Linked DNA regions of Homo sapiens. The protein of the gene in region 1 interacts with the protein of each later gene in a pairwise test. Each region holds a gene or a part of one and is shown on either strand. Other genes may lie near its edges. The genes, in order: TMEM11, CYB5D2, BIK and RNASEH1.

The links.
Region 2: the proteins of TMEM11 (region 1) and CYB5D2 interact in binary tests that used the Homo sapiens proteins (3 or more experiments, as listed by UniProt).
Region 3: the proteins of TMEM11 (region 1) and BIK interact in binary tests that used the Homo sapiens proteins (3 or more experiments, as listed by UniProt).
Region 4: the proteins of TMEM11 (region 1) and RNASEH1 interact in binary tests that used the Homo sapiens proteins (3 or more experiments, as listed by UniProt).

The regions. Positions count from the first base shown.
Region 1 is NC_000017.11:21,211,151-21,219,154, reverse strand, and holds the start of TMEM11 (transmembrane protein 11, mitochondrial), read left to right. Parts: upstream 1-4,993; 5' UTR 4,994-5,002; coding exon 5,003-5,064; intron 5,065-7,927; exon of another isoform or gene 7,928-8,004. UniProt on the Homo sapiens protein: Plays a role in mitochondrial morphogenesis.
Region 2 is NC_000017.11:4,139,116-4,146,214, reverse strand, and holds the start of CYB5D2 (neuferricin isoform 1 precursor), read right to left. Parts: upstream 3,019-7,099; 5' UTR 2,460-3,018; coding exon 2,210-2,459; intron 2,105-2,209; exon of another isoform or gene 356-2,104; coding exon of another isoform or gene 148-355; intron 1-147. Other genes in the region: ZZEF1 (zinc finger ZZ-type and EF-hand domain-containing protein 1), read left to right, coding at 3,320-3,673. UniProt on the Homo sapiens protein: Heme-binding protein which promotes neuronal but not astrocyte differentiation.
Region 3 is NC_000022.11:43,105,987-43,113,758, forward strand, and holds the start of BIK (bcl-2-interacting killer), read left to right. Parts: upstream 1-4,763; 5' UTR 4,764-4,817; intron 4,818-7,772.
Region 4 is NC_000002.12:3,548,317-3,555,336, reverse strand, and holds part of RNASEH1 (ribonuclease H1 isoform 1 precursor), read left to right. Parts: intron 1-3,028; coding exon 3,029-3,193; intron 3,194-4,864; coding exon 4,865-4,964; intron 4,965-6,224; coding exon 6,225-6,279; intron 6,280-6,612; coding exon 6,613-6,697; intron 6,698-7,020. UniProt on the Homo sapiens protein: Endonuclease that specifically degrades the RNA of RNA-DNA hybrids.

The DNA.
Region 1 (8,004 bases):
AACAACAAGTGCCTACACTCTGACCCAGCAAGTTCTCGTCAGGAAATTATCCCAGTTTTATTTGCAATGGGTACCAGGAAGTGGCGCAAACATGTTTACTGCAGCACTCCTTGAAATAGTAAAAGACTGTCCAGAGACTGGCTGATACAATTATGGCATATCCAAACAATGGATTATCATGTACTGCTAAAACAAATCAGATATATACTGATACAGAGTGATCTCCAAGATACAATTAAGTGGAAAAAACAAAAACAAACAAGAAATGGAGGAATGTGCATAATATGCATCCTCTGGGCCAAAGAAAACATTTGTTAATATATGTCTACTTTATATCTGCAGAGGATCCATAACAAAGGTACCAGTTATTGCCTGCAGAGGGTTGTGGACAGAGATGGAAAGAGCCAGGTCACAAGAAGATGAGCAAAAAAACCCCCTTATTTTTCACTGTATATTGTTTTGTAATTTGAATTTTATACCATGTGAATATACTGCCCATTCAGACTTAAAATTCTACTTTTAAAATGCTCATTTTGATGCTTTTAATGGTAAATTCAAACCTTTATGTAGAACTATTATACCTAAGATATTGTTTTGGAAGATTTGCCTTTCCCTGAATGCTACTACATGCTATGAGGAATAAAAATAGGCTGAGTTTTTACTCCTCAAAACAGCCCTGCAAGATAGGCGCTGTGTGAATGGCATCTATTTTCTCCCCTACACCTGCCTTTCTATACTCTCCATGGTCAGGGCTGGAAGCCAAACAACTACATTTCCCAGACTCCCTTGTCATCTGACTCAGCCAGTGGGAGGCACTGGTGGGAGTTTGGAAGATATGAGATGGGGAAAGCAATTCTAATCTCTGGCTTCTGGTGGCACCCCAGGCCACAGCGGTGGTTCCAGTTGTGTGTCAGTAGTACCAGGCAGCAAGTGTGGCTCCAGGCTCCTGCTCAGCAGCTGAGGAATCAGTCTCTGGAAACGAATTTTCCTGTTGCTCCTCTAGCCTTGTGGGGGTCAGGCTTTGGGTGCCCTTGTTCTCCCCTTGTTTCTCATGCCCTTCCAACACCTTTGTAAACAATACCCTGTATTAAATGGTTTTTCCTCTAATTACACACTGGCTAATACAGATAAAATTACTCATATTTTACAGGTGAGAAACTGAAATTCAAATAGAGAAAGTGACTTAACCAAAGGCAAGCTAAGTACCACGCTTGTCTCATGATGCTCCAGCCACCTTGGTCCTAACCTTATTGGACCACCCCAGGCCCATCTGCACTGCAAAGCCATTGCATTAATTCGCTCTGCACAGAACATTCTGTCTTCAGTCCTTCGCATGCACACTCTTTCAAGTCCCACTCAAATGTTACCTTTTGATACAGTCGGGTTTTCGTTTTTAAGAGACAGGGTCTCACTCTGTCCCTCAGGCTGGAGTGTAGTAATACAAACATAGCTCACTGCAGTCTCAAACTCCTGGGCTCAAGAGATCCTCTCACCTCAGCCTCTCCAGTAGCTAGGACTACAGGCACGTGCCACCATACTTAGTTAATGTTTAAATTTTTTGTAGAGTCAAGGTCTCCCCATGTTGCCCAGGCTGGCCTCAAACTCCTGGACTCAAGCTGTCCTCCTTCCTCAGCCTCCTAAAGTGCTGGGGTTACAGGTGTGAGCCATTGTGCCCAGCCTTCAAATGTTACCTTTTTAGAGTGACCTCTTACCACCTGTGATCTCCAAGTCACTCCATTATATCATCCTGTTCCTTTTCTTCTTGGTACTCCTCTCTGAAAATATTTACTTAAGTTGTTTATCCCATTGGAATGTAAAGCCCGTTAAGACCCAGGAACAGTGTTTGTCTTACTAAACACCGTATCTCTGTGCCCAAGAGTACCTGCAGAGTATGCCTTCAACGATTTAAGAATGAATGAATGAAAAGTGTAGTAAGAGAAGTAGCAGATTACTTTGAGCACCAGCGAGGACATGCCTTTCCACTGGCTGCCTTCATACAGCAGGACAGAGGGCTCACGGGAGTCTCCACCGCAGGACAGCCCCCAGGAACTAATTCCCACCACTCAGGCTGTGCCCTCCAAAGGTGCTCAGCTAATACATACTGAGTCAATCAGGCTGCCTATGAACCTTCCAGACAACCTCCGTGCATTAACAGTAATCAGGAGGAAACACCGTGAGGATCTTAGACCAAGTTGGCAGATTAGAAGCAGACGGTCATTCAGAAGTTAAGGGGAGAGTAAAAAGCTGGAGAAATGGGATGTTCATTAGGGCCACAGTTGTTTCAGCATTTACATTTACTCTATGCACTAGACCTACCTCCAGTGCTTCTGGAGAGGCACAATGGCAGAGTGTAATCTCTGTAACTGGACAGTCTGGGCTCAAATCCTAGCACTTTCCTGGCTGGCAGTGTGAGCAAGTCACTCAGGTCGTCTGTAAGTTGATTTCCTCATTTACAAAATGAGATTGTTGATTAAAAAAAAAAGTGATACTATTATTAAGACAGAGTCTTGCTCTGTCATCCATTCTGGAGTGCAGTCGTGCGATCTCAGCTCACTGTAACCTCCACCTCCCGGGTTCAAATGATTCTCATGCCTCAGCCTCCCGAGTAGCTGGGATTACAGGCGTGTGCCACGATGCCCGGCTAATTTTTGTATTTTTAGTACAGACGAGGTGTCACCATGCTGGCCAGGCCGGTCTTGAACTCCTGACCTCAGGTGATCCACCCGCCTTGGCCTCCCAAAGTGCTGGGATTACAGGCGTGAGCTAACGCACCTGGCCAACAGTATCACTTTTATACAGTTGTTGTGAAAATCAAGATGTAGATCACTTAAAATATAAAACAGCACTTGGCCTCCATACACGTATCACCTCATGAAATACCGCAATCCTCTGAGGGGAGATACTATCATCCCATGATACAAACCAGGCAGCTGAGAAACAGAAGTTACACAAGCAGCCCCTGAGCCAGAAGTGCGTTCTAGAATCCCTAGTATACCCTCTGAATCACCACACTGATACAAAGAAAAGACAGCCATATCCGCAGTGTCATACCATGGAACTGTTAAGAGGTCTCCAGCATGAACTACGCTGACACTTGGAGGCAGGGCTGTATGACTCAACAGGAAGGCCAGGTACTTTTTAGAGACCAGACAGGTACAAGGTCTTGAAGGACAAAAGTTGGCTGGGAGAGCTGGGCACCGTGGCTCATGCCTGTAAATCCCAGCACTTTGGGAGGCTGAGGGGGATGGATCATGAGGTCAGGAGTTGGACACCAGCCTGACCAACATGGTGAAACCCCGTCTCTACTAAAAATACAAAAATTAGCTGGGTGTGGTGGCACCACCTGTAATCCCAGGTACTCAGGAGGCTGAGGTAGGAGAATTGCTTGAACCTGGGAGGCGGAGGTTGCAGTGAGCCAAGATCGCACCACTGCACTCAAGCCTGGGCGACAGAGCAAGACTCTGTCTCAAAAAAAAAAAAAAAAGTTGGCTGGGAGGTAAAAGCATTTTAGGTAAAGCATAGAACATCTACGTATCTGCAAACCCTCTGAATTTACTAGCCTGGCAAGTTCCAGACGGGAAAGGTAGGCAGTTGAATTTGGAGAGCTAGGCAACTTCCAAACTAAGGAGGGGCTTCTTGATTGTGCTAAGGAATTTGAATCACACACTGTAGGTGATGAGGGACGGTGAGAGGATTGCAAGCAGCTAAAACTGTGGTAGAATGTCAGCTGGAAGGAAATCGAAAGGAATCCTCAACAAGGAGAGGGTCGCCTTTCCGTCTGCTGGCCCTCCTGCTGTGGCCTGCGGCGGGGTGGGAAGGGGGGTTCCACTACACAGAAGTGTGACGCGCAGGGCTGGGCTTCTTCTAGGCTGAATTCGGGACAGATTTTCGCATTTGTTTTGCTCAAGTATTTATGGGACCAATTAATATGTTTAGCAACGTTGTCTGTGGGAGCAGTAGAGGAACTGAGAAGTTCACAAACTGTAAGAGATCCTCCAAAGAGTCCACAGGTCTGAGGCAGCAGCACCTGGGAATCTCTGGGCTCCAGTTAGTCCTTCCTGACTTTGACTCGTTACAGCAGTGTCCAGACAGGGATATGTCGGGTCCTGTGGCAGGGTTCCCGTCAGGTGGGATGGTTTAGCCCCGCATCTGCCTTCAAAGATCCCGAGATTATGCCGTCGCAGCGGCCAGGGCAGGAGTGGGTGCGTGGCAGGGACTGAGTCTAAGAGGCCTGGAGGCCCTGTCTAAAACAGAGCTGTCGCTGGGCCCTCTCGCCTTCAAGCAGTTATCATACAGCTATTCCCCTTTCTTGTTTTCAGACCCTCTCCTCTAACAGCCTGCACCTGCAAGCAGGGACCTCCGTGGCAGCAGGGACAGCGTGTCTGTCTCGGCCTCCAAAGTACCCCGGAGTCTAAGAGAACTGGGGGAGGATGGTGCGGGAGCAGCGCCCGCCTCCAAGGAGGGCCCGGGCGGCGCCTCCCGCCCCTCGGTGACCTTATGGGCCAAGGCTGTGAAGGGCAGGCGTGGCGACGCGGAGGGGCCCGGCGCTAGTAGCCCGCAGACAGCGCGGCGGCCCCCAGCGGGAGAGGCAGCCTGGCGGCCAGGACAGCGCGGCCGGGCGCCTCCGCGCAGTGCTCTGGGAGTTGTAGGCACTTGCCTCTCCTCTCTCCTTCAGCTACTGGCTCTCGAAACTCAAGGACCTACCGGTGGGTGGGCGCCTGTGACTCCCAGGCTGCGAACGCCGGGAACTCAGTTTCTTCAGAAATGCTCGAACCAGGACGGCTCCTGGAGTCCTCGCGCCCTCGCAGAAGGACTACGGGCCCCGGCGACCCCGGGGGCGGGGCTTCCGGCGCGCTGCCTTGTGGGCACGGTAGTTCCGCCGGGTCTGGCTTCCGCCTGCCGAGCGGCCCCGGACCGCAGGCCGGACTACACTTCCCGTCGGCCCGCCTGCTCTCCCGATGCCGCCTTGGCGCGAGACGTTGGCAAGCAGAGTGTCTCCAAGATGGCCGCTTGGGGAAGGAGGCGTCTTGGCCCGGGCAGCAGTGGCGGCAGCGCCCGAGAGAGGTGAGATCCAAGGGCTTGTTGCCCCCAGTGCAGGCGGCTCAGCGGCCGGAGAGCCCAGCGCGGCCTCCGAGGGCTGCAGCAGCCTTCCTTCCCTGGTTTCCCCGCGCTCCCCCTACCCTCGCCGGGCATACTGGGTTCCAGTTCCGGAGGATCCGGGATCCGGGTGGGAGCGAGGTCGAAGGCCTCGGCGGAGAGCTTAGGGGAAGGGGCGTTAGCCGGGCTGAGTAAGGTAGGCAGCGGCCATGCGGGGCGGGGCCCGAGGCCGGGCCGTGCTGAAAGGAACTGGCGCCCAGCGCAGGCCTCAGGGACCCGCCTAGCTGCCCGCGGGCCGATCGGCTGCTGAAGCACCCTTCCCGCCTGGGCACGCGCGTGGCCATCTCGGCCGCGGCCCCAGACGTGTAGAGGAAGGCAGGGCCCCCGGAGAGAGAAAGAAGGGGAAGCCTTCACAGAGCAGGCCGGCCGCGGCAGGGGTAGTTTGATCTGCACGTTTACTAGGGAGCTTTAGCTCCCGCCAGATGTGTCTCTTCCGAGCCCAGAGCCGGCCACTTCCTCGAGGGAAGATTCTGAAGACTTTTGGATGGTTCTGTGCAAGCGCTCCTGCCGTAGAAGTCCTTTAAAGTGACCTTTCCTAATGAATGGTGTGTGGGCAGGGAGCTAGGAGCGTGTTTCTTCCAACAGGGACCTCCATTTGAATAACTGATTTCTAGAAGATGAGATTGGAGTAGTTTCCGTGTTTCATGTTCAAGTTGCAGTTTTTGCATCTGGGAAGCAGTTTCAGCTAGTGGAAACCACTAGAAGCTGTTCAGCCACTAGAAATTTGGGAGAAGATGTATTGGTGGAGCCACCTGGATTAACTGTCCGCTAAAGCTTGATTGTTATAGCAGCGGTCAGCAAAAAAGGAAAAGTTTTTGTTTTGCTGGTTCTCCCCCTCCCCGTCTTTTTGGTGAGGATTGTCTAACAGAAAAGTTATCTTCCTCTCAACTACTCTGCATTATTCCTTTTCTGTGACTGATTCCATCCCGTGTTCATTGCTATTGCTTGCAGATGGCTTTCCCAGCTGGGAAGATTCTTCCTGTTTGGCAGTTGTGATAGAATCCTTTAGCTTGCTTGCACTTTATTCTTTAGCCCAGTTATCCAGCGTTGCCCATTCTGCATTTCCTCTTCCTTGGAAAAGCAGTGGTAAACACACTTTTGTTTTTCTAACTCCCGCCTGGTATTAGATTGGACCATTTAAATAAGTTACCTCAATGGTTTTCAGATGCTCTTAAAAACTAGCAAACATTTTCAAGATATTCAATGCAAACAGTAATACGAAATAACCTGTTTAGAAAACAAAGTATTAGAAACATACGCCCTCTTGTTGGACTAAAAGCATCTGAAAAGAGCCGAATAGGGATGCCTCAGGCAGGGAACAGGAGCCTTGCCAGCACAGGTTAAGCTTTTATTGATCTAAGAAAATAGATGCTGAGAATTGTTTTTGTTTTGGCTTGAGACAACTGTTTATTCAAAATGGATCTGCAAATTAGCAGTGCATAGGCTGGATCCAGTCCTTGACTGTTGAACCTCAACAGTTTTTAAGAGAATTTAAATTAGTTGCCAGCAGATTTCATATAAAACGCTCCCTGAAAAGCTGGGTAGTGGCTGACTCTTTTTGGTCGGGACAAGTGCTTGGTTCCAGTTCTTGGTTCCTCACCTGACAGCTTGACTCAAATCACCTGACAGCTTGACTCAAATCACCTGTCAGCTTGACTCAATGCATTTGCCTGCTTGGTCTCTGTAGGTGTTCAGGTTGCACCTTTGGCCTGGAACTGAAGGCTCTACTCACACACGCAGATGTTGTGTGTCAGCAGGAATGTGGCATTTGGTTTTGTAGTTTGGATGTCACCATCTACTCTCCTAGATAACGTGGTATGGGTGGAGACTACCTGTCTGTTTGCTCTTGCTGTAAACCCCTAGCCAGGTTCTGTTGGAAGAGTCATTTCCCCGAGCCCAGCTTCCCTAAGCTCTTCCCATGCTGAGCAGGGGATGGAAACATAACCCGCTGTGGGGCTAGCGAGCTGACTTCTGGGCATCCCTCCATTCCTGCTCAGTTGGTGATGACTGTTCAGGTGGGGCAGGGCGGATTAGCTGATGGCCCAGCACTCTAGATTATGAGATCTGAGTGTATTATTGGCTCTTATGACTGAAGTAGGCTGTTTATGGCTCTCTAAAATGACTTTGTTCCATGTCACATTCGTGCTGACTCAAATCTCAGCTCCATGTTATACGAGTGCTCTCTCCCGTTGCTGCTCACACCTGGTTAGCATCTGCTTTTGCTGAAGCTGAGGGAAACATTATCTGGTTTGGGGAAGGGGCTAGAACAGAGTGACACTTTGGGCACACTTGCCAGATTTGCCAGCGGCTACCAACTCTGAAGCATGCATTGTACTTAAAGGTCCCACCCAGTGCCAGACTGCCTGCAGTATTACTGCCGGCGCTGTGTGTTGGATGGTCCAGTTTAGCACGTGTAGCGTGTGGGTTCTTGCTTTACCTTGTTGAGTCTAGAACCACAGCTCTAGAATTAGTGCTGAATTAACACAGCAGTTCAGTAGTCACCAGCTACATGTGGCAATTACATTTAAATTCATTAAAATTAAGTAAAATGAAGAATTCAGCTCCTCAGTCTCACTAGCCACATTTCAAGTGCTCAATAGCCACTTCCGGCCTGTGGCTACCATATTGGACAGCATAGGTGGAGGACATTTCCATCACTGCAGAAAGTTATGATATGGACAGTGCTGGTTTCGACTAAGATAGGAGGGGTGGAAATAGCAAAATGGTAGTGCTTGCATGTTGATTTTTCTCTCCACTCCATTAAATCTAGGGAACCAACAGTGTTTGTAATGAAGAACATCAGACTCTGAGCTGTAACCTGAATTCTTGTCCAAAATTCAGCACACT
Region 2 (7,099 bases), about 17 Mb from region 1:
GGCTGGGGCACAAGAATATTGAACCCGGGAGGCAGAGGTTGCAGTAAGCCAAGATTGCGCCACCGCACTCCAGCCTGGGCTAAAGAACCAGTTTATCTCGAAAAATAAAAATAAATAAATAAAAAGGTTGGGGGCAGTGGCTCACACCTGTAATCCCAACACTTTCAGCGGCTGAATCACTTGAGCTCAGGAGTTCAAGACCGGCCTGGCCAACATGGCGAAAACCCATCTCTACAAAAAATACAAAAATTAGCTGCACGTGATGGTGCACACCTATGGTCCCCGCTACTTGGGAGGCTGAAGTGGAAGGATTGCTTGAGCTTGGGAGGCGGAGGTTGCAGTGAGCCAAGATCATGCCACTGCACGCCAGCCTGGGTGACAGAGGCAGACCCTGTCTCTAAACAACAAAAAACCCCACTGAATTGTATACGTTAAAAGGACTTTACATCACGTGAATTACATCTCAATGAGAAATAAAATACTGAATGAACGAATACGTGGACATAACTGCTTCCCAACTAGACTGTGTGGGCGGTGGGGAGCATGTTGCAGACATCTTGGATTCCACAGCCCCTGACACAAGGTAGGTAGTGGTAAATAAAGATGGTCAATGAATACCAGAACACGGGAGCTCAGTAAACAGCAGAGCACACTGAAAAATAAAAAGCACTCCAGACATCGAAGGTTTTATGCCCACACTTGTGCAAACATCCAACGACAGCTCCCACAGCACGCAGCAGGGCAGCGCAACGAAAACTGCCTTCAACTAGCAGCGACAAAACACCTTGATTCCAGTCCCAGCTCTGCTTCTAACTCACTGTGTACCCCTGAGTAAGTCCCTTCCCCTGCTGGACTATCTCAGGGGATTTGCGAGACCAACTGGACTTCATTCCTTTTCTGTCAACTTTTGTATTTCTTTAGTACTTCCTAGACAGAGGGAAGTGGCTTGTATTTTAAGTGCTAGAGGCAGCTTCCCAATTCCCCTAAGATAATGACAAGTGGAAAATGCTTATTTAATGTCAGCCTAGTAGCTGATCTTAGGCTTGCCCTGCACTTTTTTTTTCTTTTTAAATTTTGGAGGTCAGTCCCGCTGGCTGGCAAGGCAACATCTGTAAAAAAGCACTAGGCTGGCCGGGTGTGGTGGCTCACGCCTGTAATCCCAGCACTTTGGGAGGCCAAGGTGGGCGGATCATAAGGTCAGGAGATCGAGACCATCCTGGCTAACATGGTGAAACCCCGTCTCTACTAAAAATTCAACAAATTAGCCGGGCGTGGTGGTGGGCGCCTGTAGTCCCAGCTATTCGGGAGGCTGAGACAGGAGAATGGCGTGAACCCGGGAGGCAGAGCTTGCAGTGAGCCGAGATCAGGCCACTGCACTCCAGCCTGGGCGACACAGCGAGATTCCATCTTTAAAAAAAAAGCACTAGACTGGTGGTCCGAGTCCATATTCTGTCAGTATTCAGGTGTGAGGGTTTCAGGCAAATCGCATCCTTTAACCCCCTCAGCTGTAACACAGGGACACCAGCATAAACTTAATTTGACAAATGTTTCTTGAGGCCTAACATATGCACAACTTTGGTCTACGTATCAAGGACTGTAAAGGTGACTGGACCCCTTTCCTCTGCCCTAACCTTCTAAGGAAGGCAAACAGGTGCATCTTGTACTAGAAGCAGGAATGACTCAGACCAAATGTACTATATGACGGGCCATAAAGGAATAAAGTATTGATGCATGCTCATAAACCATGGATGAACCTTGAAAACACTATGCTTAGGGGTGGGGGGAAGAAAGATTATTTGGGACCAGGGCATAATGAAGAGATGGTTGGAATTATTAAGGAAACTGTGAGGGTAGGGGCGGGGCGGGATCTCGTTTATCTGTGCCCTAAGAGCCCCCACAAAAGTCCGGCACACAGCCCGTATCCTAGGGCTTCCGACGCTGGGTAATGGGTAACAAGAGACAGAAGACATGTTTCTCCAATGTAAGTCACGCAGGGCGGTGGTGGATGACAGAGCTGGCCCACAGTCCCGCCAGAGCCAGAGAGCCTAGAAGGATAGTGCATGCAGCTCGTCCCGCCCACCGCACGGGTTTGATGGATGTGGGGTGGGGATGGGGGGGGAAATAGATGAATAATGAACCAACGAACGACGCGCAGGTGGCTACTGGCTCGCGCCAGCGGAGAGAAAGGCGTGAGCAGCCTCGCTGATACCTGCGAAGCCGCTATAGTGGGACCCAGGCTCGTAGTGCCTCCGGCCGGAGGACACATCGTAGACACGGCCGAGCAACGCCAAGTACAGGCCCGGGTCCCCTGGGCCGCCGCGGTAGCGAGACAGCTCCTCCGGTATGAAAAGGCGAAAGCCAGCGCGGGGACCCCACCAGCCCATAAGCCGTGCTGCCATTACCGCTGCTGCGGCTACAGCCAGGCCCAACAAAAGCCCACGGCCTCCGCACCTCAACATCTATATAGGCCCACCCGCTCCGCACTTCCGAGGTTGCCGCCTCTATCTACAGCTAAGATGGCCGAGACGCCGAGCGTGACGTCATCGGCGCGCGCGCTCTCGCTCTCTCTCTCGCGCGCTAGTGCTCGCGCTCCCTCCCTTAGTCTCTCTCGTTTTATCTGTATTCCTGGCACTGGCGAAAAGCTCGCTGTCTGCGACTTTTTCCAGGTACTTTTTTTTTTTTTTTCTGAGACAGAGTTTTAGCTCTTGTTGTCCAGGCTGGAGTGCACTGGCGGAATCTCGGCTCACTGCAACCTCCGCCTCCCGGGTTCAAGCGATTCTCCTGCCTCAGCCTCCCAAGTAGCTGGGATTACAGGCACGCGCCCCCACGTCCGGCTAATATTTTGTATTTAGTAGAGACAGGGTTTCACCACGTTGGTCAGGCTGGTCTCGAACTCCTGACCTCAGGTGATCCACCCGTCTCGGCCTCCCAAAGTGCTGGGATTACAGGCGTGAGCCACCGCGCCTGGCCCTTCTCGTACTTCTTGGCTTGCAGGTTGTCAGCCCCAACAAAGATGGCGGCAGCGGAGGCTACGGAATGACGTAGATACTGAGACAGACTCGTCCTCTGGGAAATCAAGGTTGCACCCTTTGAGGCGGCGCTCCCCGCCTAGCTGTCGTGAGTTGGTAGAGGCCGCCTATCTACGTGACGGCGCCTTTGCGACAGCGGTCGTCGCTTGACGGCCAGGAAGCCGGAAGCCGCAGGGGCCGCCGTCGTCTCCTCCGCGTCCCCGCCCGCCAGCTGCTGTCGGAGGTTGACAGGTCGAGGCGGGGAGGCGGCGGCGGCGGCTGCAGAGCCAGGCGCCCAAGACGGAGACCCCATGGGGAACGCTCCGAGTCACAGCAGTGAAGACGAAGCGGCAGCTGCCGGTGGCGAGGGCTGGGGCCCACACCAGGACTGGGCCGCGGTCTCGGGCACGACCCCCGGCCCGGGCGTCGCGGCTCCAGCGCTACCACCCGCCGCGGCGCTGCTGGAGCCGGCCAGGCTGCGAGAGGCTGCTGCAGCGTTGCTGCCCACACCCCCCTGCGAGTCGCTGGTGTCGAGGCATCGCGGCGCGTTGTTTCGCTGGCTGGAAGAGCGGCTGGGCCGCGGCGAAGAGTCTGTCACTCTGGAGCAGTTCCGGGAGCTGCTGGAGGCTCGCGGCGCCGGCTGCTCTAGCGAGCAGTTCGAGGAGGTCAGGGCCGGCAGGCGACTGCGGGGATGGGGCAGGGCGGTCGCCCCCAGGGGACTGAAGGAAGAGGTGGGCATTTGCTTTGGAGAGGCCAGGCGGGGACCCATATGAGGTGTTTCCAGCTTTTCACCAGGCGTTTGCTTCGTTTCTCTTTAACCTATGTTAGAGGTCTGGAAAGTCTGCATCAGGCCGTCCTTGCTCTGAAGAGCTGGACAAGCCCATATGTCTCTCTCTGTATGTTGTAATGCAGACCTTTGTGCAGTTGATTGACGCTACTCTGGAGATCTTCTATCAGATTCTCGAACAGTTTGGAGAGAAAAGAGATGTAAGGATAGGAGGAGTGGCGCTGAGAACCATTTTTTGTATTGTCCTGTCCAGGTTTTTACACAGCACCTTCCCAATTCAGTGTGGGCGCCGAATAAGTGTGGAAAGACAGTAGTAACATGCTGGAAAGGCTCACATTCTAAAACCTATCCTCCTCATGCAAAAACTAGCTTTTCTAAAATACATACTGGTTTGTAGATCCTTAAAGAACCATATATTAGACTCATTTAAACCTTCATAGGATCCGAAACTGATAGGCAAATACCAGGTTTCCTGTGAATACTTGTAATTATGCAGTTCTTCATATAATCACCAAGATCATGTCTGCTAAGTCATTAAGAGAGCAAATTGATTTGGCAACAAAATATTTTCCTTGGAAGGCATTTTGGGAGTTTATTTACTGGGCGCTTCACTTCGAGTTAAGAAGACTGATCCAGGGTTACCCAGTGAATCATTAGTAAAACAGACTATCAACTAGATCTCTTGCTTTTTTTTTTTTTCTTTCTTTCAACTTTTATTTTAAATTCAGGCGTACATGTGCAGGATTTGGATTTGCAGATGTATTACATAGGTAAACGTGTGCCATGGTGGTTTACTCCACACAGCATCCCATCACCCAGGTATTAAGCCCAGCATCCATTAGGTATTCTTCCTGATGCTCTCTCTCCCTCCACCCGCACCCTATTTTTTGTTTTTAATGTCTCACTACCTCCTTCCTGGGATCCTATTTCTTTTAACACCACGGTATGACCAAAAAGGTACTTATTTTGTGAAAATGAGTTAGCCAGTCATGTAGAATCTTCAGTGGCCACGAAGGGTGTGTACATAAAGCAGTAAACCAGCGGGTACTTGCAGTGCCTTTAAAAGGTTCTGTTCACCTTAAAATCAGAGGCTTTTAAAATATTTTAAGAATGTCTTCCTGTACATGGCCAGAATTCAGATAATGTAGTTTGTGTGTTTCTTATGAAAAAAGTACCTTTAAGGCATCCCAACCCTTAAAAATAATAGTCATGGCTGGGCGCAGTGGCTCACGCCTGTAATCCCAGCACTTTGGGAGGCTGAGGCGGGAGGATCATCTGAGGTCAGGAATTCAAGACCAGCCTGGCCAACGTGGTGAAACCCCACCTCTACTAAAAATACAAAAATTAGCTGGGCATGGTGGCGGGTGCCTGTAATCCCAGCTACTTGGGAGGCTGAGGTGGGACAACCGCTTGAACCCAGGAGGCGGAGGTTGCAGTGAGCTGAGATCACGCCACTGCATTCCAGCCTGGGCCTCAGAGCGATACTCTGTCTCAAAAAAAAAAAAAAAAGTCATATTAGTTAGTGAAAGATCTCCTTTTTTTTTCCCCCCAGGAATACACATAGTACCTTCTTTCTAGTATCTACGCGTATTATGAGAATATGAAGTAGTAGTGGGAAGAACCATGCAGAACTGTTGAAGGAGATGGCACTTTGCAGATTTGAGCAAAGGCAAATGGAGAGAAACACCGTTTACATTCTGAGAGTTTCTGACAGAAATAGAACTTTATGTAGAGTTCATAGGAGTCCCTTAATAGAAGGTCAAGAAATACTTGAGGTGTGGTCCAGAAATCACTCAGGGGTTGTGGCATTATTGTTCACTGAGCAAATGTTTATTGGGCGTATATCGAGTGCCACTCACTTGGATGACAGTGGACAAAGCAGATACTTGCTCTTAAAGAGTATGTAGTTGTGGTGGAAGAGACAGGTATTAACCCATTAATTATAAGATATGGTGAGTGTTAACCGAGGGGGAAGGTATAAGGAATAAATAGCAAGTGTATTTAACCTCACTTGGGGCTCAAGCAAGACTTACCTGAGAAGGTAACATTTCAGCCCACAGGTGAATGGTGAAAGCAGATAGTGTTACAGGAGGTAGTAACAGCGTTTCAGGCAGAGGAAATTGTATCCACAAAAGTTCAAAGTCCAGAGAATCTGGAAGAAGTCTGGTGTGGTGTATTAGGGATACACAAAACTTTTTCAAGGGACAGAAAACCTAATGCATCAGTGGTTTAAACATAAAAAGAAGCTGCTTCCTTATGAAAATGTCCAGGTAGGCAGTCCAAGATTGATGTGGCAGTGTTGTCATCATCAGGGACCTGGCTTCGTCCATCTTGTGCTGTCATCCTCCACGGACATCTTCCACTTAGTAATTCTGTTGACTCCTGCTGTCATTTTCCACATTCCAACAAGCAAGAAAGGGAAAAGGGAAGGAGAAGGAAGAAGCCATGCCCACTCTCTTACGGGCATAGCTTACATCCCACAGGCCAAAATTCAGTCACATGGCCGCAGTTACCTGCAGGACAGGCTGGGAAAGATTCTTTTTCCGTGGCCATATATTCAGCTAAAACTCAGGGCTTAATTATTGAGGAAGGGGAGAGAAAACATTGAGTTATATTTGGCAGTCTTTGATTCACATAGCTAGGTCATACAGTTCTGTGAGTGAGGCTTAGCCAAGGTTTAAAAACCTGATTGTGATAATCTCACAGTGGCCACCGTCTCTCATGATAATCTTGTGATGGCTGCTCTGTCTGTAAGAACTAGTAAGTTAGGACTAGCCAAAGAAGATAAGATTTAGCCATGCATTTGATTCTGTGCTTTAAGAATGTCTATCCTTAGACTTGAATAAGTATATACTTTTGTGCATACTTACACAGTTAATTCTGCGTTGTTAATCTACGTCTAAGCTTTTGAGAATATACTGCTGTATTTTACTGCAAGATGAAGGGCTTGTGAAGTAATGTCTTTATAGTAGCAACTAAAATGACAAGTTGTTTCCGTCATTCGTTTTTATAAGAGCTAACATGGTAAAACAGATAGCCACGGGTGCGCATGGTTTATTATAATGCTGAGAGTTTCCAAGTGTTACATGTTTCTTCTTTGGCTTCCCAACTTACGCTGCCATTGGTGTCCACGCAGCTGTCTTGCTTTCACATTCCTGTGACCTCAGTTATTTGAGGAGGTGTTATAAAGAAGTTCTTGGAGTTGGACCATGGACCAAAGTCTGAAACATTATCATTTTATAGTACAACACACCTTTTCTCATGGTAGGTGTGGTCCAGGGAGAAGGTGCGCATGGTTTATTAT
Region 3 (7,772 bases), on another chromosome or scaffold:
CAGGAGTTCGAGATCAGTCTGGCCAACGTGGTGAAACCCCATCTCTACAAAAAATTAGCCAGGCTTGGTGGCAGGCGCTTGTAATCCCAGCTACTTGGGAGGCTGAGGCAGGAGAATCGCTAGAACCTGGGAGGTGGAGGTTGCAATGAGCCAAGATTGTGCCATTGCACTCTAGCCGGGGCGGCAATGCGAGACTCAGTTTAAAAAAAAAAAAAAAAGTTTTCAGAGGATGTACAACAGCTCTGTCCATGGAGGGCCTCACAGCTTCGGAGCTGAGTCCAGGCTGGGTGTGCAGAATGCCAGCTGACGGATGTACTGCTGGCCAGCTGTGGGTCGGGGGGCAGCCTGGGTACGCCAATCAGTTGGACGGAGGCTGCAATACCTCTATTTAGGAGCCCTGGGCACTCTCGGAGACAATGGGCATTATTTTCCCTTCAATACCCCTCCGCATGGCTGCTAGATTCCAATTCCTTAACCTCTTGTTCCTTTCCAGCTCAGTGTCCTTCCATAGCTCCCCAGTACCGACAGGATAATTAGGCCACATTCACCTTTCTATTCTGGTTGGAATCCAGTCCCTTCTTTGAATTCCCCTCAAATATCTCCTCCTCCATGAAGCTTTCCCTGATATATTTGTGTCCTCTGTGGGAGCCTGGCGCTTAGTTTTCCCTTGCTTGACGCCACAGTCACTTTCTGTCTGTCCCTGCATTGCCACTGTCTTGAAGGTAGGCATTTGGCATTGTCTCTGGCTTGGCTCTGGCTTCAGTTAAGACCAAACATAGTTTTCTTCCTCTTCTAAAAAAAGATAATGTTTTTGCACGTTTATCTAGACAATCCGGAAAATACATGAAAACACAAGGCAGAAAACTAAACCACGGCTGGGAGCGGTGGCTCATACCTGTAATCCCAGCACTTTGGGAGGCCAAGGTGGGCGGATCCCTTGAGCCCAGGAGTTCCAGGCCAGCCTGGCCAACATGGTGAAACCCTGTCTCTACTAAAAATACAAAAATTAGCTGGGTGTGGTGATGCACGCCTATAATCCCAGCTACTCAGGAAGCTGAGGCACAAGAATCACTTGAGCCCAGGAGGCAGGGGTTGCAGTGAGCCAAGATCACGCCACTGCACTGCACTCCAACTTGGATGACAAAGTGAGACGCTGTCTCCAAACAAAAACAAAAACAAAAACAAAAAAACAAACTAATAGGACCAGGCGTGGTGGCTCACACCTGTAATCCCAGCACTTTGGGAGGCCGAGGTGGGCAGATTCCCTGAGGTCAGGAGTTCAAGACCAGTCTGGCCAACAGGGTGAAATCCCGTCTCCACTAAAAATACAGAAAAAAAAAAAAAAAAAAAAAACATTAGCCGGGCGTGGTGGTGCATGCCTGTAGTCCCAGCTACCCTGGAGGCTGAGACAGGAGAATCTCTTGAACACAGGAGGCGGAGGTTGCAGTGAGCTGAGATGGCATCACTGCACTGCAGCCTGGGTGACAGAGTGAGACTCCATCTCAAAAACAAAACAAAACAAAAACAAACAAACAAAAACTCAATACACCTGTATTAGTATTGAGTTTAATTGACATACCAAAACATGCACAGTTCCTAAGCATTCAGCTGTTTGCATACATATGCACCCCTGCAGCCACCATCTGTGTCACCCCAGAAAGTTCCATAATGCCCCTTCCCAGCCAATACCCATCTTCACCCTGGAGAGGGAGCCGCCAATGTCACCTCTAGCGCCATAGATTAGGTGTGCCTGGTAATGAACTTCATGATGCCCAGAGATGACTACTATTCCCATTTTGCTGTGCTATATTTCCTTCCAGACTTTCACACATGGATTTTTTTTTTTTTTTCTTGAGACAGAGTCTCGCTGTGTTGCCCAGGCTGGAGTGCAGTGGCACAATCTCGGCTCACTGCAAGCTCCGCCTCCCGGGTTCACGCCATTCTCCTGCCTCAGCCCCCTGAGCAGCTGGGACTACAGGCGTCCACCACCACACCCAGCTAAATTTTTTTGTATTTTTAGTAGAGATGGGGTTTCACTGTGTTAGTCAGGATGGTCTCGATCTCCTGACCTTGTGATCTGCCTGCCTCGGCCTCCCAAAGTGCTGGGATTACAGGCACCTGCCACCTTGCCCAGCCATACATGGATTTTTAAAGAATATAGGATTCTAATGGACACAGTGATTTATACAGCATGCCATTTCATTCAATAGATCATGCGATCATGCATCTCCAAGACAGTTTCCTTCGTGAGCTTTTTTTTTTTTTTAGACAGAAGAATCTTGCTGTGTTGCCCAGGCTGGAGTGCAGTGGCACGATCTTGGCTCACTGCAATCAAGGCCTCCCAGGTTCAAGCAATTCTCTGCCTCAGCCTCCCAAGTAGCTGGGACTACAGGTGAGTGCCATCACACCCGCTACTTTTTTTTTTTTTTTTTTGAGACAGAGTTTCACTCTTGTTGCCCAGGCTGGAGTATAATGGCGTGGTCTCAGCTCACTGCAACCTCTGCCTCCCTAATTCTCCTGCCTCAACCTTCTCGAGTAGCTGGGATTACAGGCATGTGCCACCCCGCCCAGCTAATTTTGTATTTTTAGTAGAGATGGGGTTTCTCCATGTTGGTCAGGCTGGTCTCAAACTCCTGACCTCAGATGAGCCGCCTGCCTTGTCCTCCCAAAGTGCTGAGATTACAGGCGCAAGCCACCGCGCCTGGCCTAGTTTTTTAATTTTTAGTAGAGATGGAGTTTCGTCATGTTGGCCAGGCTGGTCTCAAACACCTGACCTCAGGTGATCCACCTGCCTTGGCCTCCCAAAGTGCTGGGGTTATAGGCGTGAGCCACCATGCCCAGCCATCTCTTCCTCCTTTTGATCAGCATATTGTCTTGGGATTTTGCAAAGTAAATAAGTACTGTATTTGCACCCACTCTGCCCTTGAATCATCCAGTGTCCCCAAACGGTCCTTCTTTCTCCATCTTTTCTGCTAATGTTTACTGAACATCTCCTACATACCTGGCACTGTGCCTCCAGCCTTAAGACCCCTCTGCAAGCATCTCACATATATCAGGTCTTTCGGACCCATGAGACCCCGTGTCATTGCTTTACCTCCCTGAGTCTCAATTTTTTCATCTGCAAAATGCATTCAGAGGGAAGCCCCCATTATGAAGGGTTCCCTGCTCCTGACTGTAAGGCACTCTGTGGCTGTTAGCCACAGTCAGGGCGAGCTGCTTTGTAGGGGTTGATGTAGTTTGGAGGCCCTAGAAGAAAAGACTACAGGGCCGGGAGTGGTGGCTCACGCCTGTAATCCCAGCACTTTGGGAGCCCGAGGCCGGTGGATCACCTGGTGTCAGGAGTTCAAGACCAGCCTGGCCAATATGGCAAAACCCCGTCTCTACTAAAAATACAAAAACTAGCCGGGCATGGTGGCACACGCCTGTAATCCAGCTACTAGGGGGGCTGAGGCGGGAGGATTGCTTCAACCTGGGAGACAGACGTTGCAGTGAGCCAAGATTGTGCCACTGCACTCCAGCCTGGGCAACAGGGCTAGACTCTGTCTCAAAAAAACAAAAACAAAAACAAACAAAAAAACCCCACAAAAGCAAAGAAGGTCCAGAGCCCGGAAGGCGGGAGGGGCTCTGAAGACTTTATCACACTTTACCTCCTCTGTTCCTCCCAACAGCCCAGCTCTTGGTAGGTGCTGTTGTCCATTTCACAGATGAGAACATTGAAGGGGAAGTAATTACCCTAGAGGTGGGAAGAACAGAGTGAGGGTACCCAACAGGTAGCAAACGACAGAGCTGGGGGAGGGGAACCCCTGTCCCTGCCCCTCCCCTAATCTCTGAGGGGATCAAGACAGAAGTAAACAAGCTTTGCCGTGCCCAGGACAATTGTTACTTTGTTATTCCAGGAGCGCTCTGCCTTCTCCCACCCCCAATATACCCCAGGGCTGGAGTTAGGTCCTACCCATCCCCGCGTAGCAGGCTGCCCACCCGCCCACCCCGCCTGGAAGCTTTCTGATTTCTCTGTTCGCCCCGCCAGGCGCTGTGGGGTCCGTCTCACCAGGTCTGCACGTGAGCCCCCTGCCCCCAATCCCTCCCAGTCCCGCCCGCCTCTCGCGGACCCGGAGCCCCGACGGGAGGGGGAAGGCAGTGGGTGTGTCATGCAGCTGGAAGGCTGCGGACGGGCGGCAGTGGAGGGGCAGCCCCCTGGCTTCGGGTATGGATCACTGGATGCTGCTGCTAACCAAATGTGAACCTCGGTTTTCATATTTGTGAAATAGGCTTTAAAACACCTAAATCCCAAAGCTGCCAGCCTAAGGAGCACACGTCTTTGAACGCTGGCTTCACGCTGTCATTTAAGTCATTTCGTCCTCTTGGAGCCTCGGTTTCCACGTGGGTAAAATGATCGTGAAAAAAAGCACCGAGGAGTACTTTGAGCTCGAACGGAGGCCATCCGTGTAAAGGGCCAGATTCTGTCAATGGATCGATCCCCCCGATATTGATGGAAACCCCTGAGTGCACGCCCGTGCTGGGCGCAGGGGAAACAGCGACGCACGGGACAAAACAAGCTTGCAGAACAGCAGGGGGCAGAGAGGCTGTAAACAAGCCAACGGGCTGCACTTGTAGCGGTTCTGTTGCCAATGCCATTCAGACCCCAGTCCGGGATTCCGCGCTCGGGGTGCGAGAGGCCGCTCCCGGGGAGGGGCGGGACCCGGGCGGGGCGGGAGGGGCGGGGCGCCCGGGCCTATTAGGTCCCGCGCCGGCAGCCGGGCCGCAGACACGAAGCCTCCCGGGTGGCTTACAGACGCTGCCAGCATCGCCGCCGCCAGGTGAGTGCCCCCGACCCTGCTGCCGCCCGCTGCTCCGCCCAGCTCGAGCCCGGCGGTTAGCGCCCAGGCCGCGGCCCGGGTGCCGAGCGGCTGGAAGTGTGGGGAGCCGTGCCCAGGTTTTACCGCTCCAGCAAGTCGCTGGCGGGGCGACGTCTCGGGACTCCGGCTCCGAAACGTACCCTCTCTGTCCGGGGCTCCAGGTCCCCGACGGGCGATCGTGCCAGGCGCGGCCCCTGCGGGCCTCAGTCTCCGCGCCTGTGCAATGGGGTGGTCCCTCTGCGTCTCGCCGCGACGGCTGGACGCCCCATCGCCGCCGCACAGTCCTCCAGTGCGGCTTCCGGGCACCCGGCTCCGAACTCTGGGGTCGTGCGGACCCGGCCAGACCGTAGCGCGGCAACGCCAGCCCACGGCCGCGGCCGCACAGCCCCGGTGCCCTTAAAAGAGGGAAGATGGCGTCGTGCCCGGTGCCGCCGGGACCGGCTCCCGGAGGCGCTGCGCACCTGAGGAAGGGCCGAGGAAAGGCTTCGTAACGGGACGCCCAGAAAGTCCGGAACAGGAACGTGCACACGGAGCGGCGCGCAGCCGCCCGCCCTCGCTTGCCCACGCGCCCTGCACAGGTGCGCCCCAGACTGGGCGGGGACTAGAGCCCGGCTGGGGCATGCGACCTTGTTTGGTAAATTGGAGGTGCGCCCCTGCGGGTGACCCGCGAGGGGGCCCCCCGCCTGCGGGGCGCGGTCACGACAAGGCTTGTGGGGTTCGGAGCTGGTCGTCGTCTGGGCTCTGGCCTCCTAAATGCGATCGCTTTCAAGCCCTTCATTGTCAATTTTGCTAGAATGAGCCACTCGTGGGGTAGGACGTGGTTGTTGATGTTACTGTTGTAGCTCTTACTATTGTAACATTTTTGTTGCTGTTTTAACGCAGTGTTTACTGTGGTCTGGGAGCCCGAGCTTCCCAGGGAGCATTGGTGTCAGCCTCATGTCCCCGCATTAGGAGGAGCGCAGTCTGGTGGGCACTAGCGCCGGGAAGTTCTTAACATCTGTCTGCCCCTGGGAGCAGGAGGCCTCATCTTCCAGGTGGAGAAACAGAGATTTCAGTCCCAGGAGGCACAGAAATGCCAGGGTTGTCTAGCTAGAAGCCAAGGGCCCTTTATGGAACCCAAGCCAAAACCTCTTTCCACTCTCCAGCCCTGTGGCCTCGGAAGGGCCACTCCATCTCTCTGAACCTCAGTTTGTTCTGTTCACTCTGCAAAATGTATCCCTGAGGTTTCTGGCCAGGTGAAAGCCCCTCTCAAGTTAGTAGCCTCCCTGGAGTTAAGACTCACCCCGATTTCTACTTAATTTGGGCACGCCTTTGGAATAAGTTCTCAGGAATGGCACAGTTTGGGTGTTTTTTGTTTCTTTTTGTTTTTTTTTGAAACAGAGCTTCGCTCTTGTTGCCCAGGCTGGAGTGCAATGGCGCCGTCTCGGCTAACTGCAACCTCGGCCTCCTGGGTTCAAACGGTTCTCCTGCCTCAGCCTCCTAGTAGCTGGGATTACAGGCGCCTACCACGAGGCCCAGCTAATTTTTTGTATTTTTAGTAGAGATGGGGTTTCACCATGTTGGCCAAGCTAGTCTCGAACTCCTGACCTCAGGCGATCCACCCGCCTCAGCCTCCCAAAGTGCTGGGATTACAGGTGTGACCCACCCCGCCCGGCTTGAGTGTTTAAATACTCCTGCCTCAGCCTCCCAAGGTGCTGGGATTACAGACGTGAGCCCCTATGCCTGGCCCTTTTTTTTTTTTTAATTGTCTTAAGGATGTTAAGACTAAGATTCTCACACATTTGACTCGTGCCTGTAATCCTAGCACTTTGGGAGGCTGAGGCAGGAGGATTGCTTGAGCTCAGGAGACTAGACTGGGCTAGACCAGACTGGGTAACATGGTAAAACCCTGTCTCTACCAAAAATACAAAAAATTAACCGGGCATGGTGGCATGTGCCTCTGGTCCTAGCTACGCAGGAGGCTGAGTTCAGAGGCCTACCTGAGCTTGGAGGGGTTGAGGCTGCAGTGAACCCTGATCATGCCACTGCACTCTAGCCTGGGAGACAGAGTGAGACCCTGTCTCAAAAAAAGGAGCATTAGGCTGGGCATGGTGGCTCACATTTGTAATCCTAGCACTTTGGGAGGCCGAGGGAGATGGATCACCTGAGGTCAGGAGTTGTGAGACGAGCCTGGCCAACATGGCAAAACCAGTCTCTTTTAAAAATGCAAAAATTAGCCGGTCGTGGTGGCGTGTGTCTGTAATCCCAGCTACTTGGGAGGCTGAGGCAGGAGAACTGCTTGAATCTGGGAGGCAGAGGTTGCACTGAGCGGAGATCACACCATGGCACTCCAGCCTGGGCCACATAGGGAGACTCTCTGTCAAAAGAAAATTTAAAAAAGCATCAAATGGTAGATCCCCAGTGTCTGTTACAGCTTGGGTACTCTATGGCTGGATAGAGAGGCTGCATACATGTTAGTTATTGTAAGTTTGTTTGTTTTTTTGAGACGGAGTTTCGCTCTTGTTGCCCAGGCTGGAGTGCAATGGCTGGGAATACAGGCGTGAGCCACCTCACCCGGCTCAAGATTCTTACACATTTGACTTGCCTGTAATCCCAGCACTTTGGGAGGCTAAGGCGGGAGAATTGCTTGAACCCAGGAGGCGGAGATTGCAGTGAGCAGAGATGGTGCCACTGCACTCAGCCTGGGCTAACGTGAGACTCCATCTCAAAAAAAAAAAAATTACGTCTTGTGTCACAGAGCTGCAGATAAACCAGAGACTACTCATAACCGTGTACTTTTTTTTTCCCCCATTTCTGATCCCGTCTCAACGGAAGGATGTAATTGAGGAAGGGCTTGATTGGCCAGTGAGTCTTGAAGCTGACACCACTGCTGGTGGTATTTTCCCCTCTCCCTGGAAAGCATCCTGTTTTTAGTGA
Region 4 (7,020 bases), on another chromosome or scaffold:
GAGACAAGGTGTTGGGGCAAGGAAGGCGACTTTTTTCCGAGAGCCAGCAAGTCAAGAAGATGGTGGACTAGTGTCCTGAAGAACCATCTTAAGTTAATAGAACTTGAGACTTCTTTTATGTTAAGGGAAGGGGAAAGAAAGGCGGAGGTGAGATCAGGAGGAGACCGATGAGCACAGACATCTGGATGGCAGCGAGGGTCCAAGGGGATTGTGAAACTTCTCTGTCCTTGGTCAGGCCATGATGCTCCTCCTATAAGTCTTCAACATAACATTGTTATTTGTGTGTACTCCCTCTTTATCTCCTTGGGGGTTAGTTTTGGGAACGGACCACTGTCATCCTTGCTTTAAACTATAAATTCTTCCCATAGTTCACTCGGCCTATACGATACCACTATGGGGATGTTAAGGGAGAATGGAGGCAGTAATGCTGAGCCGCCTCCTCGCTGTTACAGCTGTTCATTTTTCTACCCAGATGGAAAAATCAGTTTGAGACAGAAAGCAGGTTTGAAAATATGGCTTTTTCCTTCTTTGCTGGGTTCCTGATACTTCCTTTTCTTAATTTTCCTTTTCAGTTTTCCTTTTCACAAATTTTTTGTTTTTAACCAATCAGTAATTTATTTGTATCTCAAGTCTTCCAATATAAGTATGTTTCTGTTTTTATTAAGTACTCTGACTCTTAAAGCAAGCTAGTTCTTTTGAATCTACTTCTTTAAACTTTAGAGACCTCCTAGTCAGTGACTTACGTCTATAAATTGAGATTTAGTGCCTTTAATGATTCAGATCTGTATCAAAAAGTCTTAGCCCCTTTTACAGTTTTTTGTTTTTTAACATTACATTTATCCTTATTTTAGAATTATTGAGCTATTTACTGGTTCTTATGGTTTATATAAGCTGATTTAAGGTTAATTTACTTAAAAACCACAATTTTGTGAAGTAAAACTTAACTGACAAGTGTGTTTTTTTCCTCCAAGTCTTATCTGTTCTGTAAAGTGTCCATCTCTGTTATAGTAAGTAAAACCAGTGTTTATATCCGTGTTAAGGTTCTACAAAATGACACTTTAACCTGGACCACAGTATCTGCATTTACTTCAGTAGAGTACCTAGAGGAACGTTTTGGAGATGAGTGTGTGAAAACAAAATGTGGCAGTGGAAACGCCAGCTGTTGCTGACGTCGTGCTGATCACAGTCAAGTGTTGCCCGGCGCCCTTAGGGTTCCGAGAGGTGTGGGTTGAGAAGCTCCACTAGGCTGGACATTTTCTTGTTCCTTTCTAGTAGGCGTTCTGTGATGTTCGTGCCCCATTTCTCCATCCCTGGTTTAGGAGTTGAGAGCTGGAGGTGAATCCTGTAGTGTTGGGTTAGGGTTGTTAGTTTGCAGGTAGTTGGTTGCTCCTGTGTCCTTATTTTCACTCCATGTAAGGAAAAGTCGTTTGAGATCATCTAGCCCAGGGCCTCGTTTTACAGAAGCCCAGAGGGTTTAATTCAGTTGACGGAGTTCGCAGCTGATAAAAGGTATAGCACAAATTGAAACTGGTTTTTTGAGTCCTGGTCTAATTTAGCTGTTCTACTTCAGCTGCCATAGTATTACCCAGTGAGTGAGATATGGGCCCTTCCCAGATAACCCTGAGGTGGTATTAAGAATCTCTTTGGGGCCGGGCGCAGCGGCTCACGCCTGTAATCCCAGCACTGTGGGAGGTCAGGGCAGTGGATCACAAGGTCAGGAGTTCAAGACCAGCCTGGCCAAAATGGTGAAACCCCCATCTCTACTAAAAATACAAAAAAATTAGCTGGGTGTGGTGGTGGGTGCCTGTAATCCCAGCTACTTGGGAGGCTGTGGCAGAGAACTGCTTGAACCAGGGAGGTGGAAGTTGCAGTGAGCCACGATCGCGCCACTGTACTCCAGCTTGGGCACAGAGCAAGACTCTGTCTCAAAAAAAAAAAACTATTTGGGATTAACCTTGAGGTCCCCCTGAAGAAAAACTTCGTTGCAGAAGAAAAACTTTGTTGCAAAAGAAAAGCTGCAAGAGTACTGACCCTGAAGGGACCCAGTTGCTTCCTTTTAGTTTCTGGTTTCTGTTTCCTTTTTTTTTTTGAGACAGAGTCTCACTCTCTCGCCCAGGCTGGAGTGCAGTGGCGCGATCTCCGCTCACTGTAAGCTCCACCTCCTGGGTTCACACCATTCTCCTGCCTCAGCCTCCTGAGTAGCTGGGATTACAGGTGCCCGCCATCACGCCTGGCTAATTTTTGTATTTTTAGTAGAGACAGGGTTTCACCATGTTGACCAGGCTGGTCTTGAACTCCTGAGCTCAAATGATCTGCCCGCCTCGGCTTCCCAGCCCTGTTTTCCTTTCTTAATATGTCCCATTATCTGTTTATTCAAGCTAGATGAACCTGCACCCTCTGAGCCCTCCTAGGGGTTCTTAACTTCGTGTCCATGTAGTTGTATTTGAGGCAGGGAGAGGCTGAACCATGGACACAACTCATCTTTTTTTAGATTTATCTATTTTTAAGCAAAGGGGTCTCACTATGTTGGCCGGGTTGGATTCAAACCCGGGCTCAAGCGATACTCGTATGTCAGCCTCCCGAGTAGCTGGAACTATAGGCACACACCACTGCGCCCAGCAACACCACTGATGTTATATACACAATTTTGGGCCATGTTTTTCCTGGAGAAAGAGCCCCTTGAGATGCTGTGGAGGGGATTGAGATGCTGTGGAGGGGGTGGAGGTGGTGTGGAGGGGAGGGGGTGGTGGTGGTGTGGAGGGGAGGGGGTGGTGGTGGTGTGGAGGGGAGGGGGTGGAGGTGGTGTGGAGGGGGTGGAGGTGGTGTGGAGGGGGTGGAGATGGCGTGGAGGGGGTGGAGATGGCGTGGAGGGGGTCATTCCCTCGTTTCCCTCGTTGTAGGGCCACATAGAGAGGGTGTTTTTAAGTCTGATTTAATGATACTAAATAATTTACTGAATGTCTTCATTCTCTAGCATTTCGTGTTATGTTCATTGTTTCCAGCTCACGAGTGGACTCTTGTCTTTCAGGGCATGAAAATCAACATGGACAAGAATCGGAGGCGAAAGCCAGCAAGCGACTCCGTGAGCCACTGGATGGAGATGGACATGAAAGCGCAGAGCCGTATGCAAAGCACATGAAGCCGAGCGTGGAGCCGGCGCCTCCAGTTAGCAGAGACACGTTTTCCTACATGGGTACATCTTCCTTGGGTTTTCAGATTTTAATACCACAGTCAGGAAAATGTTATGTGTAAAAGGTGTTTCCCACTTGATGGGGGGAGTTTGAGCTGGTGTTTATCATCTTCATTCTTATGTGTAAAGATTATTTAGAAATCACTAAGGCCATTATTTATAATCAAGTAGTGCAGAATTAAACTTTTGGATGTTCTTAGGAAAACCCTTACATGTAAATGAACAACTGTAATCTTTTGAAATACTAGTATTCCCTGTGCATGCAGTACTTAACGTTAAGATGAAATGCGAAGACTCCAGCTTTTTCAAATAACACCTCACACGCAGCTGCTTGTTATAATTGATTAGCACCAGCATTTTAACCTTTCATATTCAATCTTTGGAAAACAAGAGATTCTATTTTATCCTGAGAAGCAAGGTAGTAGTGAACTTTTCTGCTACCTTTCACTCCAGGAATCAGTTATGTATTTAGTGACTCACAGAATAGAATTCTCCTTTGTGTCTTTTACACATATGAGCAGAAAGTAGAAATAAGCATTAAAAAATATAAATCAGTATATTTATAGGTTCTAATTTAATTCAAGGGAAACCAGTAGAAAATGTTTTGCCAAGCTGTATTATTTATAGATATGTTTTGCAGTTACGTAAAAAAAGATCAAACAAGTATTCTTTATTTGGTGATTTACTAGTAGGAATTGAAGCAAAGATTTGTGGAGTTGCAGGGAGATGAGCCGTTTCCAGACACTGACCATTGCTGGAGGCTTGGTGGCCTGGAACATGGCGGATAGCAGGTGCTGGCTCCTGAGACAGTTCAGTGGCTGGGTGGGAAGCTTGTAGTCATGCTGATACAGTTAAGTTCCAGCTGAACGGAGGAGCCCTGCCCAACACCCACACTCCCCTTGGCTCTCAGCCCCGCTCCTGTGAGGAGCACATCCCCATCTTTGCCCCTTCGCCACTGCTGAGCTCAGTCTGCCGTCCTTCGGACAAGTACTTCCACTTCCTGCGCGTACCACCTCTATTTGCCCTCTCGCCCAGCTCTTTTAACACTGTGCAACCTGACCTCTGATCCCACCACACTACTGAAGTGTCCTGGTCACCAGTGGCCTGAGAATGCCCCCGTCAGTCCTTTTTTACCTTGTTCTTTACAGCCTTTGTGTGTCAATCATACCCTCTATCTAGAGGGAAAGAAGCAAAGACGGGAACCACACTTAACTAGCAGCAAATATGCCAGGGAAGAAATTAGACCAGCACTGGTCAGGAGACTGGGCCCTCTGGCAGGCAGGGTCACCGTCATGCTGAGGCGCTGCTCGTCTCTGGAGGATGGCTCCCTGGGAGTGAAGGTGACCCTGCCGTGGAGACAGCGCCATTGTCCTCTGAACCCACAGTGTGGGATGTGAACAGTAGTTTTTACTGCAGCAGGCTCTAGTTTTACAAGGTGATTGCCTTCACCCCGAACTTGCCTGGCCTGCAAGATCAAAATGTAAGTGGATTCCAAGCATAAATGTTAGGTGCCCCCTTGTAAGGAATGGAGCATGTTTTCCTAGAGAGAAAACGTCTGCAGCGTTGTAAAATACCCTCTCGGTTTAAAATGCTAAGTCGACCTAGTGGATTTTTGAGGTGAATTTCAGTTTTTAGTAAGGTCAGCCCAGCAGCATGTACTTCCTTTTCCCACAGGAGACTTCGTCGTCGTCTACACTGATGGCTGCTGCTCCAGTAATGGGCGTAGAAGGCCGCGAGCAGGAATCGGCGTTTACTGGGGGCCAGGCCATCCTTTGTAAGTTAAACGAAGCTGAGTTTTACTGAATCATGTTCCACAACTTGTGAAAAGATGAGGCGGGATCTGCTCATTGTTTGATTATTGGGAAAACCTGCAGATAAGTAGCTCTGGCAGGGGTGGCAGAGGAGCAGCTTTGGTTCGTGTTGGGGCTAAGCGGCATTGCTTTTCAGAACGTGAGGTACCTCAGCTTTACTTCCTTTGCTTTTTTTTTTTTTTTTTTTTTTTTTAAGACACGGTCTCACACTGTTGCCCAGGATGGAGTACAGTGGCACAAACACAGCTCACTGCAGACTTCACCTTCTGGGCTCAAGCGATCCTCCCACCTTGGCCTCCCAAACTGTTGGGATTATGGGTGTGAGCCACTGCACCTGGCTTTGGTGTTTCTTTCTTGCCCTGGGGAGGAGTCTTTTTTTTTTTTTTTCCTGAGACGGAGTCTCACTCTATCGCCCAGGCTAGAGTGCAGTGGCGCGATCTCGGCTCACTGCAAGCTCCACTTCCCAGGTTCACGCCATTCTCCTTCCTCACCCTCCCGAGTAGCTGGGACTACAGGCACCTGCCACCAGGCCCAGCTAATTTTTTGTATTTTTAGTAGAGACGGGGTTTCACCGTGTTAGCCAGGATGGTCTCGATCTTCTGACCTCGTGATCCGCCCACCTCGGCCTCCCAAGAGGAGTCCTTTTTTCAGTAGAGATGAAGTCTCACTATGTTGCCCAGGCTGGGCTCAAATTTCTGGGCTCATGCGATCCTCCCACCTTGTCCTCCCAAAGTGCCGAGATCACAGGTGTGAGCCACCACCCCTGGCCCAAAAATTGCTCATTCTTTTAGGAAACTCTGGATCTCCTGGTGACCCCAAATTTTAAATAACTTGTCTAAGGGTTTTTCTGGTTCCTTGATTTCATTTTCCTCTTTTACTTCCTGGAGGTTTTTAGTAGTTTCAATCTGAAGTCTCACTCTCTCCATTCTTCTTCCCGAGTTTTCTCCTGGGATTCTTTCTGCTGCAGCCATAGGGCCTAACCCAGGGTCCGCAGAGAACCAGCTTTTACTTCCTTTGCCCTAGTGGAACCCATGAGAGTCAGAAGGTGCCCAAGTGTGGAAACCTGTGTGCTGCTCTCTGCTGGGAGTCTGTTAGTTTGATTTTTATATGATGCTTTTATATTTCAAATAAGAATACACACTAGTTTATCGTTATCCATTAAGAAGAATCACTTTGAGAATTCACTTTATACTTTTATTTTCTTTTGTACTGTTTTGAAACAGAAATGTAGGCATTAGACTTCCTGGGCGGCAGACAAACCAAAGAGCGGAAATTCATGTAAGTTATCAGATACGTTTAAGCCTCTCTTTTTTGAGCATTGAGTATGAAATTATCAAATAAACTAATTCTTTTTTTTTCTACCTATACATATAAGATATTTGAAGAGAGACGGGTTTAATAACAATTTTGAAAAATAGGAATTTTGTAGAAAAATTCTAAAAACTTATTTCAAATAGATGTCTACACAGGAGAATTGTATGTATAGTAGTGTTTCATACAGAGAATATAATCAGTACAGAGGGGATGTTTCAATTTCGAAGTACTTTTGAACTTTAGTAATGTCAGAGTTGAACATTTTCTGTAGCATGACTATCGACTTGTCTTTTCAAGGCAGCCTGCAAAGCCATTGAACAAGCAAAGACTCAAAACATCAATAAACTGGTTCTGTATACAGACAGTATGTTTACGATAAATGGTAAGCTTTCACATTTGATTTCTTCTGTTTTTCCAGTAACTGTGAAGGGAAATTGGTAGGAGGTGTTGTAACAGGGCAGGACCCAAATGGGAACGGGGGGATGACATTGGTTTGTCAGGTACCGAGCAAAGAGTGAGGATTTTGGAGTCTCCCTTCTGCTGCTCTGATGTTTTCCACATGCTTATTTCTTTGCCAGGCACTGGAGATGCAGTCAGAAGTGGAAGTGGCTCTTACTTCTAGTCTGTGTGTGTATAAGTCACTTAAGATGGCGTGTTGACTGCTTCTTTGGGAAATGCCCTGAATAGGAGCATGTAGGGGATGCT